2 separate regions of the Homo sapiens genome follow, and region 2 is linked to region 1. A link means that fine-mapping ties the variant in region 1 to the expression of a gene that starts in the linked region. Tissue or cell type: whole blood. Region 1 holds a variant in brackets; the other region holds the start of a gene. All regions are shown on one strand. Distances are between the middles of the regions. Region 1 overlaps EEPD1 (endonuclease/exonuclease/phosphatase family domain containing 1). Region 2 holds the start of EEPD1 (endonuclease/exonuclease/phosphatase family domain containing 1).

Region 1 (5,372 bases):
GGATGAGGCCGCCCTCCTGGCTCTCCACTCTGAAGCCTGCCTGAGCCCTGTCCGCCTGAGCTGCCCTGACACCCAGGCTGGCCCTGCTCACCTGACCCCAGAGCTACAGGGTGTGCATGGCTACTGCTTTCCACAAAGGGAAGGGGTCAAAGGTCACATGAGATGACCACCGGGTCCTAACTGGATGCAGATACCCTAAAGAGCCTGAAGACATGAAGCACAACTTTACAAAGCATGAAAAGACCCAAGATACTGGATTTAACTTCACAGGTGCAGTTTTTAGTGCCTGCATCTGTGAATTGGTCCCGTGTCCATCACTGAAAGGAAGTACCCTCTGCTCTGCTTCCGTTTTATAATCCCCAAGATGGAGATCAGGAGTTCCAATCCTGACTTGCCTGCTTTCCAGCTGTGCATTACTGGGCAAGTCCACACCCTCCTTGTAGAGGTGAAATGAGAAGCTTGTGATGAAAGCCATGCGGGGCCCCAGGCGGGGCAAACGCTGGCGAGTGGTTTGGTGTTAATGACAAAAGAATGATCAGGCTATTTATGTAACTTTAAACTTAAAAATCATATTTTATATATTGTTTTTAACCTCTGTATAAGTTTTTGAAAGGTAAGATATTCACATGGTTCAAAAAAATCAAGATACTATAAAGAGAGGCACTCTGAGAAATCCGGTTCCCACACTGTCCCAGCCCTCCCCGTGCCCCCACCATGGACTGCCATTGTGTTGGCTCTTTGGTGTCTACGCAGGATCTCTCAATTATTTACAAATAAACACAAATATATATTCTTACTTTTCTCTTACACAAAAATGCAAAGAAGATATATATTGTTCTGTACCTTACTTTTTGCTCTGAACACTATAGAACAGAAATTTTTCCATGTGGGCCTTCTCTTCCTTCTGTTCCAGCTGCAGAATGTCCCCCTTTGTGGCTGGACTACAGTCTAAGTGGACACACAGACTGTTTCCACAACCAACGCTGCGATGCACAACCTTATCCACGCTGGTAAGACAAATTCCCAGAAGCATATTGTAGATTTTACTTTCCCCCATGCTATTATTTTATCAGTCACTTTTATTCTTGTCAATGGCTTTCATCAATGGTAAGAAACGCAACAGATGGGAACCGGGATGGCAAAAGTCTGGGGAATCCTGGTTTTCACTGGTGATATTGGAGAAGGAGTAACAGATGGGGCAAGTCTGTCCTGTCATGCTGCCCTCTCTCCTCCTCCTCTTTGTTAACATTGCCACACAAAGAGTTGAAGAAAGAACAAATAGGGACATGGGACCTAAAAATAAATGTGCTTGTAATTTTCCATGAAAAAGGGAGCCTTGAACTTCATACAACCCACTGCTCCGTGATGCTGAGGTCTTGGAAGCACCAAGACAAAATCCAGACGGTTCCTAACTTCAATAATGTTGCCATATTTCTTTATCTCCTACACCTTTATATCCTCACTTGCCACATTTCCCTGTAACATGAGGGCAGTGTTTGGGGGCTAGGCACATGAGGGAGCCACAGAATACAGGCCAACTCCAGGTGCTTCTCACTTTGGCCACACTCAACTCGCACATTCAAAACTGTTTTTTCTGCCTCCTAGGTGTCAGGCTGTGCTAGACAGATGTTAGGAGTGCAAAGATATAATCGCTTGTCTTAAGTCAAAATGATTGACTCTGGGATGGGCATTGAGTTCCACAGCTACCAAACACAGAGGTGAGCACAGGACACCAGAAGGGAGTCACAGCCAGGAGGGCTACCCAACAGCATCTGTGCACACTGACAGCACAGCCACAGCCCTCCGAGTGTGAAAGGGAACAGAGGCACGTGAGGGGAAATCAAGGCAGTGGGGTGTGGCGGGTGGGGTGTGCAGGGCATGGGACAGAGTCATGAGATGTAGACAGCGCGTGGATAGGAGACTGTGAACCGCCTGGTGGACCCTGCTCAGTGGTCCCTAAACTTCTGCCTTTGCCAGCATTACCAGGGAGCTTGTCAAATGCACATTCTCCAGGCTACCTACAATGGTCAGCCCTAGCAGGTCTTGGGGAAGCTCAAAAAAGCACCCTGGGGAATCCTTCTACAGATCCAACCCAGCTTTAAGAAACGCTGCTGGGGGCAGTGAAAGTGTGGGGTGGTGGTCCAGGTCACCCTGGAGCCGGCAGCAGGGAAGAGGTGAGAGGCCAGGAGCCGACTGAGGGGGACCCTGATGCAGAAGTCCAGGTGCATGATGAGGGGGTGGGGGGCCTGAGCCTGCAGAGCAAGGGACAGATTTGGGGTGGAGCTGAGTGGATGTATGACTGAAGACTACTGTCCCAGCGGGCACAGAGCAGGGAAGGAGCCCGACCAGTCCAGAATTGGAACCAGCTTCCCAGAGGAAGGGATTTTAAGTTGGGATCTGAGGATGAGCTGGCATTCATGAGGTATCCAGGCAGACATGTGCAGACTCCTAAAATACTCAGTCACCTAAACTTCCCAGGGCTGCCCTAAGAGCCACAATCCCCACCCCCAATCACGAATGTGTTCCAAGCATGTTTAATAAAATTTCTCCTGCCTACCTCCCTGCTTTAGGACTGCAGCTGTGGGTACAGTCACAGGATTCCCAGTATTCCAACAGTAAGGCCAAGGAGGGGCACGATGGCCCTGGTTTCTGGGAAGGGAGCAGCAGCCTTTCCTTCCACTACCCCCAGAATGGAGAATGAAAGTGTGGGCAGGGCATGAAGGAGACAGGAAGAAAACAGCTGTTGCCTCATCCCCTCTGCCTCCCCAGTAAGCCACACAGAAATGA[C/T]ACAATGGGATGGGACATCTGGTACCAATGAGGACAAATGGGGATCAGATAAGTGACTTTCATGCCCACGCACAGGAGGTGTTACCTTTCCCCCGCATCGCTTTCTCCCGGTATCAGCTAGTTATTCTAAACATCCCATGCCAATTACCTAATTCCTTTATTAATGAACTTAATTTGGTGGAAAGAGTCTTCTTAGAGTCTTTCTTACTGCTCTCTAGCTCCTGCATGCTGTATCCAAGTCCCTCAGGTGGGTGTCTGGGAGCCACGGCTCAGTTTGCTGGGGAGGAGCCACGCTTGGAATCAGCTGGGAGGCTCAACACCCACCCCGGCCCCACTCAGGGCAGTGAAGGGCATCCTGAGAGTGCAAGCCAGGGGTGGGGGACACACTTAAGGCTCCTCGGGTGACTCAGGTAACTGTGCTTCACAAACAGCATCCAGCAACACTGCTGAGGAGGCCGAGCCGAAGGGCTCAACCCTTCATCCCAAAGAGCTCATGCTGATTTCTACAGTCTGCAAACCACTGTACAGATACAGTTCTACGTAATCATTATCCTCACAGGCATGCGCCACCACGCCCAGAAAACTTTTTTTTTTTTTTTTTTTTTTTTTAGTAGAGACAGGGTTTTACCATGTTGGCCAGGCTGGTCTCGAACTCCTGGCCTAAATGATCTGCCCACCTTGGCCTCCTAAAGTGCTGGGATTACAGGCATGAGCCACCACACCTGGCCTCTTTTTTTTATTTTTAAGACAGTGTGGTCCTTTCTTGCCATCTTGGCCAGGCTGGTCTCGAACTCCTGGGCTTCAAGCAATCCTCCCGCCTTGCCTCCCAAAGTGCTGGGATTACAGGTGTGTGCCACTGTGCCCAGCCCTATTCCTAATTTTAAAATAATGCATCACAACTTCAACCATCTTTATAGCATTTGAGCATGTAACCCCAATATATATATTACTTATTGATAAATCATGTAGAAGTACTGACATAATATTATACACCTTATAAAATGCAGCTAAACTAGAAATCTTTAAAGATGGGATAACATACACACAAATAGAAGTTGTGGGAACCACCAGCTCCCACCAGCCCATTAGTGGTCAGGGAAAGGAAAGGCTGGTTACCACTGGGGGTAGTAAACCACTAAATCCCGCAGATTAAAGCCAGGACATTGCTTCACTCAAATGTATCTTTTAAATACATGTTTGGAAAAATAAAGAGGAACTCTGTAAGAAAAAGTTGGTTTGCAAATTAATACATGGTTCACAGTAATTTCTTTTATTATTTTCTTCCCCTTGGAAAAGTACCATCCCGCCAAATGCCAAGGCCATAATCTCTTTTCAAGTTTAAATCAAATCCCCAGAATTCATAAAGGAACATTCTCCTGAACAGAGACTCAGAGAAAGGGTTCTAGACTTTAGGCTTTTCTAAATTAACTGAACATGGCCTTGGATTAAGTTATCTCCCTGGAGCAATTAAGACAGGAAGGCAACTCATCACCTTAGAGACACAGTTTACCTTCGAGGGCTCCTGACCTTGTGCCAGGCACAGTTGGAAGCCACACCAGTGCAGGGCAGGAGAGCACACCCTGCCTCATGGGACTCATGATGGTGCACAGGTGTTCATGGTAATTACAATTCTGGAGGGCTCCTGAGGGGGCACAAAGTAGACAGGGCCTATCATGCACTCCTGGCTGGCTTTTCCAAGAGCCACACGATGCTGGTACCTAAAGGAAGAGCAAGGGTTGGCAGAAGAGAGGGAAGACTGTCCCAGTTAAAGCCCATATGAAATCTGGAAGAATTTCCAAATGGCAGGAGAATCAAGGGCTTAGAGACAGCTGGAGGAATCATGAGATGAGGAGACCAAGAAGGGGCCCAGGTGTAGGGGGAGGGCCCCCGTGGCCGAGAGGAGTCTGAACTCACCTAAAGCATAGGGGAGCCCCAATGCTTTCAGAAAGATTCAGCTCTCATTCAGAATTCCACCTTTACTGCAGCGTGTGGCTAGGAGAGGCTGGGCAGTGAGCCTGGACTAGAGACCTGGCCTTGGCCAGGCTGGAGAAGAAAGTGACAGTGAACAGTAACCGCGGGGATGGCAGTTGTGGTGATGACACTAGGAGCCAGGTGTGGTGCAAGTGCTTTACACTTATTTATTCTATTAACTGACACAACAGTTTCCTGAGGTAGGAACACTGTCACCTCCATTTTCCAGGGAAGAAGATGAGGCCCTGAGGGCTTAAATGACTTACCTTAAGTCAGACACTTGAAGCAATAATGAAACACTGAGACATAAAAACTGTGAAGGTGCCAGGCGCGGTGGCTCATGCCTGTAATCCCAGCACTTTGGGAGGCTGAGGCAGGTGGATCACCTGAGGTCAGGAGTTCAAGACCAGCCTGACCAACATGGTGAAACTCCGTCTCTACTAAAAATGCAAAACATAGCCGGGCATGGAGGTGCGCACCCGTAATCCTAGCTACTCGGGAGGTTGAGGCAGGAGAATTGCTTGAACCTGGGAGGTGGAGGTTGCAGTGAGCTGAGATCATACCACTGCACTCCAGCCTGGGTGACAGAGTGAGATTCTGTTTCAAAACAAACA
Region 2 (5,372 bases), 27 kb after region 1:
ACATAAACGCTCTGTGGTAACGGCCTATCCTACTGGACTCTTTTCTTTGGTTTAAATGGGGAAAATCCGGCCAATTTTCACACACACACGTCAGCTTGCTTTTTTCTGGCTATGGCACAGAAAAGGTTACACACATTTTGGGCTACAATTTTAGGGCTGAAAACCAACTCCAGGTTAAATAAGGAAAAAGAATGGAGAGTGATTCATTCATAGCATTTTGGTAAATATAGACACTTGTATGTGTTTGCAAATACTTGGCCTTTAAGATGATTTTGTGTGCACAAATAGGCATATTTGATGGAACAAATATGATTTTCCCTCCCATTAATAAACAAAATCCAATGAGCTCTTTCTCACATGCGAAACTGCACCAGTTCCCATGCTCTGAGTGCCTGACTTGGTGTAGACCCAGCATCCTCCAAAGCAGTAACAAAAACACAACCTCTGCTTACCCCAAAATTATGAATCAGTCTCAGATATCTCACACTCAAGACATGGGTCACAAGCCCAGCTGTATTCAGAAAATTCTGGAGCAGAAGGACAGCCCATTCTCAGGTGACGGTATTGGCTGAGGCTTCAAGAACATTGATTAAAAACTCTTGCACCCTCCCTACCCGCAAAAGAATCCATTCATTTGCATCCATAGATGAGGTCACGCACAAGTTGCCTTCACACCCAACACCCATGGTGGTTCCTGTCCTCACCTGTTTTCCAGGAGTGTCATGCACACCACCTCTCGCACCCCGGGGTTGTTGGCCTTCTCCACGGAACAGCCCTGCAAGTTCCAGGTGGCCAGCCTCAGCACAGGCCTCCCATCCCTTGTGCCTCCAAAGGCCTCCACGGACGGCCGAGTGGAGATAATCTGGGTGGGCCCCCCTGGCGGCAGGTCCAGGTCCTCACTCTGCAGGCTCAGGGAAGTGGGGCTCGGGTGAGGCTTGGCGGTGAAGGTCAGTCCCCCGTTCGTGTGGGTGGATGGGGGCCTGGACCTCTCAGCAAACACCTGGTGCCGGATCCTGTCCAGGAAGGCGGCATTGATACCATCCATCCTCACTAGGTCCTCAACGCTGCGAAAGGGCCCATGCTCACGGCGGAAGTCCACGATGCTGAGGGCCATTTTCTCCGAGAGGCCTCGCACGCTCATGAGCTGGGCCGGGGTGGCTGTGTTGATGTTAACACGTGGGGTGAGGGGCACAGCTGTGGCCAGGTGGTGAGGCTGCTGCTCCGCTAGCAGGTCCCGCCGCAGGGAACTGGGAGAGTGCTGCGCTGAGCTGCCCTTGCTGCTCACACAGATCTCAAACTTGACCTGCTCCAGCTTGGTGGCGCCTACACCACTGACCAATGCCAGGTCCTCCACCTTCTTGAAGCCACCGATATACTCTCGGTACTCCACGATGCTGCGTGCCACGGCACGCGTCACCCCAGGCAGGGTCATCAGCTCCTCCTCCGTGGCAGTGTTGATGTTGAGCCGCTCCTGATTCACTAGAATGTTGCTGAAGTTACAGGCTGCGCTGAACTTGCGGCTATGGGACAGGTCCGAGGGGTCCCTGGGGATGGAGCGGTGGCAGCCCAGGGTGCTCCCCATGGTCCGCCAGGATCAGGCTCCCGGGAAGGCCGCACCACTGCAGAAGAGCTCTCTGGCTAGGGAGGAAGCCCAGTAGGCCGTACAAGCACAGAAAAACGGAAGGTGCAGGATTCAGGGACTGAAGAGGTTACTATAGACAAACACCGAATCTTCCATGCCTGGCGTGTCCAAAATTACCTTTCACTTGGCCGCCTAGAAAATAAATCAATAAACATAGAAACCCATTGAATTAAGAAATTTGCATTAGCACCCCCTACCTAGTGCTAGAGTTAGTAACCAGGAGTCGGGGACTGGTGGCTGCCCGTGAACCCCTAAAAACGCAGGCACAATGAGGCTAGGCCCATGTGGATTCTCCTCTAGGGACGTCCGGGTTTTATCACACTGGAGTCCAAAAAGGCTACGAGCCGCTTCTCTTGGGAAGAGACCTATCCCCATCAGCCTCATGCCTCTCCTCCAGGCCTCTCTCAACTCTGACACTTGGGTCACCCACACTTGGGCTCGCGCAGACGGGGTGGCCACTCCACCTCCCCCACGCTCCGCATCTGACACAGCGCTACCTGCAACCTGGGAAGTCCGTGCTCCCCGGAGCGGGCACTGAGAAGGGGCTTATCGACCCCCCACCCGACCTGCCGCGGGTCCCCGCGCCCCACCTCTCGGCCGCTCTGCGGGGCGCCGGTTCCTCTTCCACCTGCGGCTCGGAAGCCTGAGCCCAGCCCGGGACAGCACGGGCCCCCTGCCTCCAGCCTAGGCGTCCGCGCGGGTGTGGGTCACTGGTCAGGCCCTGGAAGCCGACTACGCCGCTTCGGTCTGCGTGTCCCGGCTCTTTCTATGGGAGAAACTTAGCATCGCTCTCCCAGAGTGAATAGAAGCCGCAGGGCTGCTCGGAGGCGGCGGCAGCGGCGGCGAAACCCGCCGCCGAGGCTGCACCGGGGCTTGCGGCGGCGCCGCCGCAGTTGCGTTTACCCCGGCAAAAAGTCCTGCGCCCAACTCGGGCGGGGATCCGCCAGAGCCAGTCCAGACCCAGCACCAGCCGCACGGCTCCCGCTCGCAGTCGGTGTCAAAGCCAAAGTCCCGGCCGCGCCGCGCCGCGCCGCTCGCGCCTCCGCAGGCACCGCGGCCACGCCTCCTCCGCGCGGCAACTCCTCCCCGGGACTCCCGAGGGCACGTGGGGGAGGGGCCCTGGCGCGGGGCGAGGCCTGGCACCAGTGGGTGGAGAGAGGAACCCGAGAGCGCAAGGGCGGGCCTGGAGTGGGAGAGGCGGGGCCATGGAAGAGGGGGCGGCATCAAGGCTCAAGAGGGTGGAGAACGAACCAGAGAGCGCGAGGGGAGGCCCTGGCGTGCGAGAGGAGGAGCCATGGGTGTGGGGGCGTGGCCTGGCACAAATGGGTGGAGAGCAGAACCCTGGAGCGCGTGGGGCGGGCCTGGAGTGCGAGAGGCGGGGTCATAGAGTGTGGGAGCGGGGCCAGGGCGCGATGGGGTAGGAAAAGCGGGGGCGGGGCCATGAGCGCGGGGGTAGGCCCCGGGAGCGCAGAGGCGGGACTTAGGGGGCTTAAGGGGCGGAGCCGGCGCCGTGCCGGCGAGGGCGGGTCACAGGGAGGCTGTCCTAAGTCAGCTGCCCCCGGACCATGGTTGCCGCCCGGGGCCTAGGACTGGTTGTGCCTGGTAGAGGCTGTTTAGGATTGCCCGAGGCGAGATCTGCTCAGCTGCTTTTCGTCTGTCTTTGAGGTGTGGGGATGAAGGCCGGGGCAGTCCCTGAGAGTGCATCGCTGTAGGTCCAGGGTCTCACGGAATTTTGCAGAACGTTCCAGAGGAGACTGAATGGGATCGTCTTAATTTCTGTCCCCACTTTCGGCCTTTTCTTTTCTTCCACCAGTGTATTACCTTTGCTCCGCTCAGAGAGATGTCCTCTAATAACGCCAGCGACGCATTGTGCTCCTAGCAGAGGGCACGCACCACCCTCCTGTGTGTTCGCATAGGTCAAATACAGGTTTGCTCCTTTGCACATTTAGCGCTGTGAGTAAACAAGGATAAGTTTTTGTAATATTAAGTCTAATCATTACGAAGGAGGGAAATGGGGGCTGCTTCCCAAAACCCAGAAGAGTTTTTGCATCACACTGCTAAATGACAATTTGGTTAAAGATTAAAGAGCCCTCTGCATTATAGTGGATACCTAGAGCTAGAGTATTCGATTAAGCAAATCATGCGGTGATATCGTTGAATACTTTGACCCTGGACGTTTAGTGTTCTCTGAAGTTTCATCCCCAACCAATGTGACCAGTGCATCTGGTTTCAATTCCAAGGACTGGGTCAGCAAAAATAGTACCTCTCACAGGCGGAAGGTACTTTGGTTGTAAAATTAGCGGCAGCCCAAGTTTGGAAAATGCTACTGCCTTTCTGAGGCACATTCCCCTGCTATGTATATTGGTCAGAAAACCAAGTCAAACTAGCTTAGACCAAAAAAAAAAAAAAAAAGGTCGGGGGGAAATTTTTGGTTCCTTGTTGAAAAGTTAAGGTAAGGAATCTTACCTCAAGTCTGGTTGCATCCGACCCAAGTGATGATGGGGTCATTAGGACATGGCAGGACTGCCTCCATCTCTGGCTCCACGGTTCTCTTTATTGGCTTTATTTTTAGGCAAGCTATTTGCACTTGATCGCAAAAATGCCTTGCTACCTACCATCATCTCCCACCCAAACACTGGGCTACATTATGCCACGCACTGAAATCCTGGTGCGGTAAGGAAAAAACAGTTTAAGACAAGCAGGAAAACAGAGAAAACTCTTCGTTGAGCAGAATGCCTTGATGCGCAACGTGGCTGTGGAAGCACAGCCGTGGAGCGTGGCTACTTGGGCTGGAAGCAGAGAAAACATATTTTATCATACAAACCAGGACACTCTGGAGGTGAAGAGAGGACTCTATTAATAATATCCTAGAACAACAGAAATAATCTGGTTTTATTCCCCATAAACCTAGCAAATGCTCCCCTTGGTATAAATGAAACCAAGCGTTGGCCAAACCAAAGTGCATTTAAAAACACACATACATACACCCCACAAAAACATGCAATGAGATGGTTAACTTTAAAACGACTGATTGTATCCAATGTTGGTGAGGACGCAGAGCAATTGAAATGGTCATACATTGCTGGTGGAGGTGTAAGATGGCACCACTACTTTGGAAATCAGTTTGGAAGTTTCCTAAGAAGTTAAACGTATACTTACCATATGACTCAACCAATCTACTTATAGGTATTTACCAAAGAAAAAGGAAAACATGAAACCCAGAGACTTGAATGTGGATGTTCATAGGAGCTTTGTTTGTTATAGCCAAACACACACACACACACACACCCACACACACACACACACACACACACACACACAAAGCAAAACAACAAGAAACTCAAATCCATCAGTGGATGAATGAATAAATTGTAGTATATCCATACAATGGAATGCTACTGAGCAATAAAGACAAACTATTACATGACATTGAAAAGTCTCAAAATCGTTATACTGAGTGAAAGAAGCAAGGCAAAAAAGAACATACTGTATGATTCTATTTATATAAAACACCAGAAAATACAAACTGACATACATATAGAGAAAGCAGATCAGTGGTTACCTGGGGATGATGGGGAGGGAGGAATGGATTTTAAAGGGCACAAAGAAACTTTGGGGGCTGATGGCAATGTAGTTTGAGAGGTGATAGTTTCATGGGCATATGAATGTCAAAACTGACAGAATCGTATACTTTAAATATGTGCATTTGGGTGTACTTCAGTGACAACAG

What was found. PIP is the estimated chance that this variant, and not a neighbour inherited with it, causes the effect.
Region 2: it holds the start of EEPD1, and the variant in region 1 is fine-mapped to the expression of EEPD1 in whole blood (TOPMed, PIP above 0.99).

Annotation. Positions count from the first base shown.
Region 1 is chr7:36,177,722-36,183,093 of GRCh38, reverse strand. All of the region lies in intron 2 of EEPD1 (endonuclease/exonuclease/phosphatase family domain containing 1), which reads right to left. Among named protein-coding and RNA genes, the nearest start is that of EEPD1, 27 kb to the right of the region's middle. The variant C/T (reference allele first, on the strand shown) is at 2,788.
Region 2 is chr7:36,150,535-36,155,906 of GRCh38, reverse strand. EEPD1 (endonuclease/exonuclease/phosphatase family domain containing 1) reads right to left here and starts at 2,653. Exons shown (of 8, transcript NM_030636.3): 1 at 2,233-2,653; 2 at 705-1,774. The coding sequence starts at 1,582. RefSeq lists a silencer at 2,522-3,241.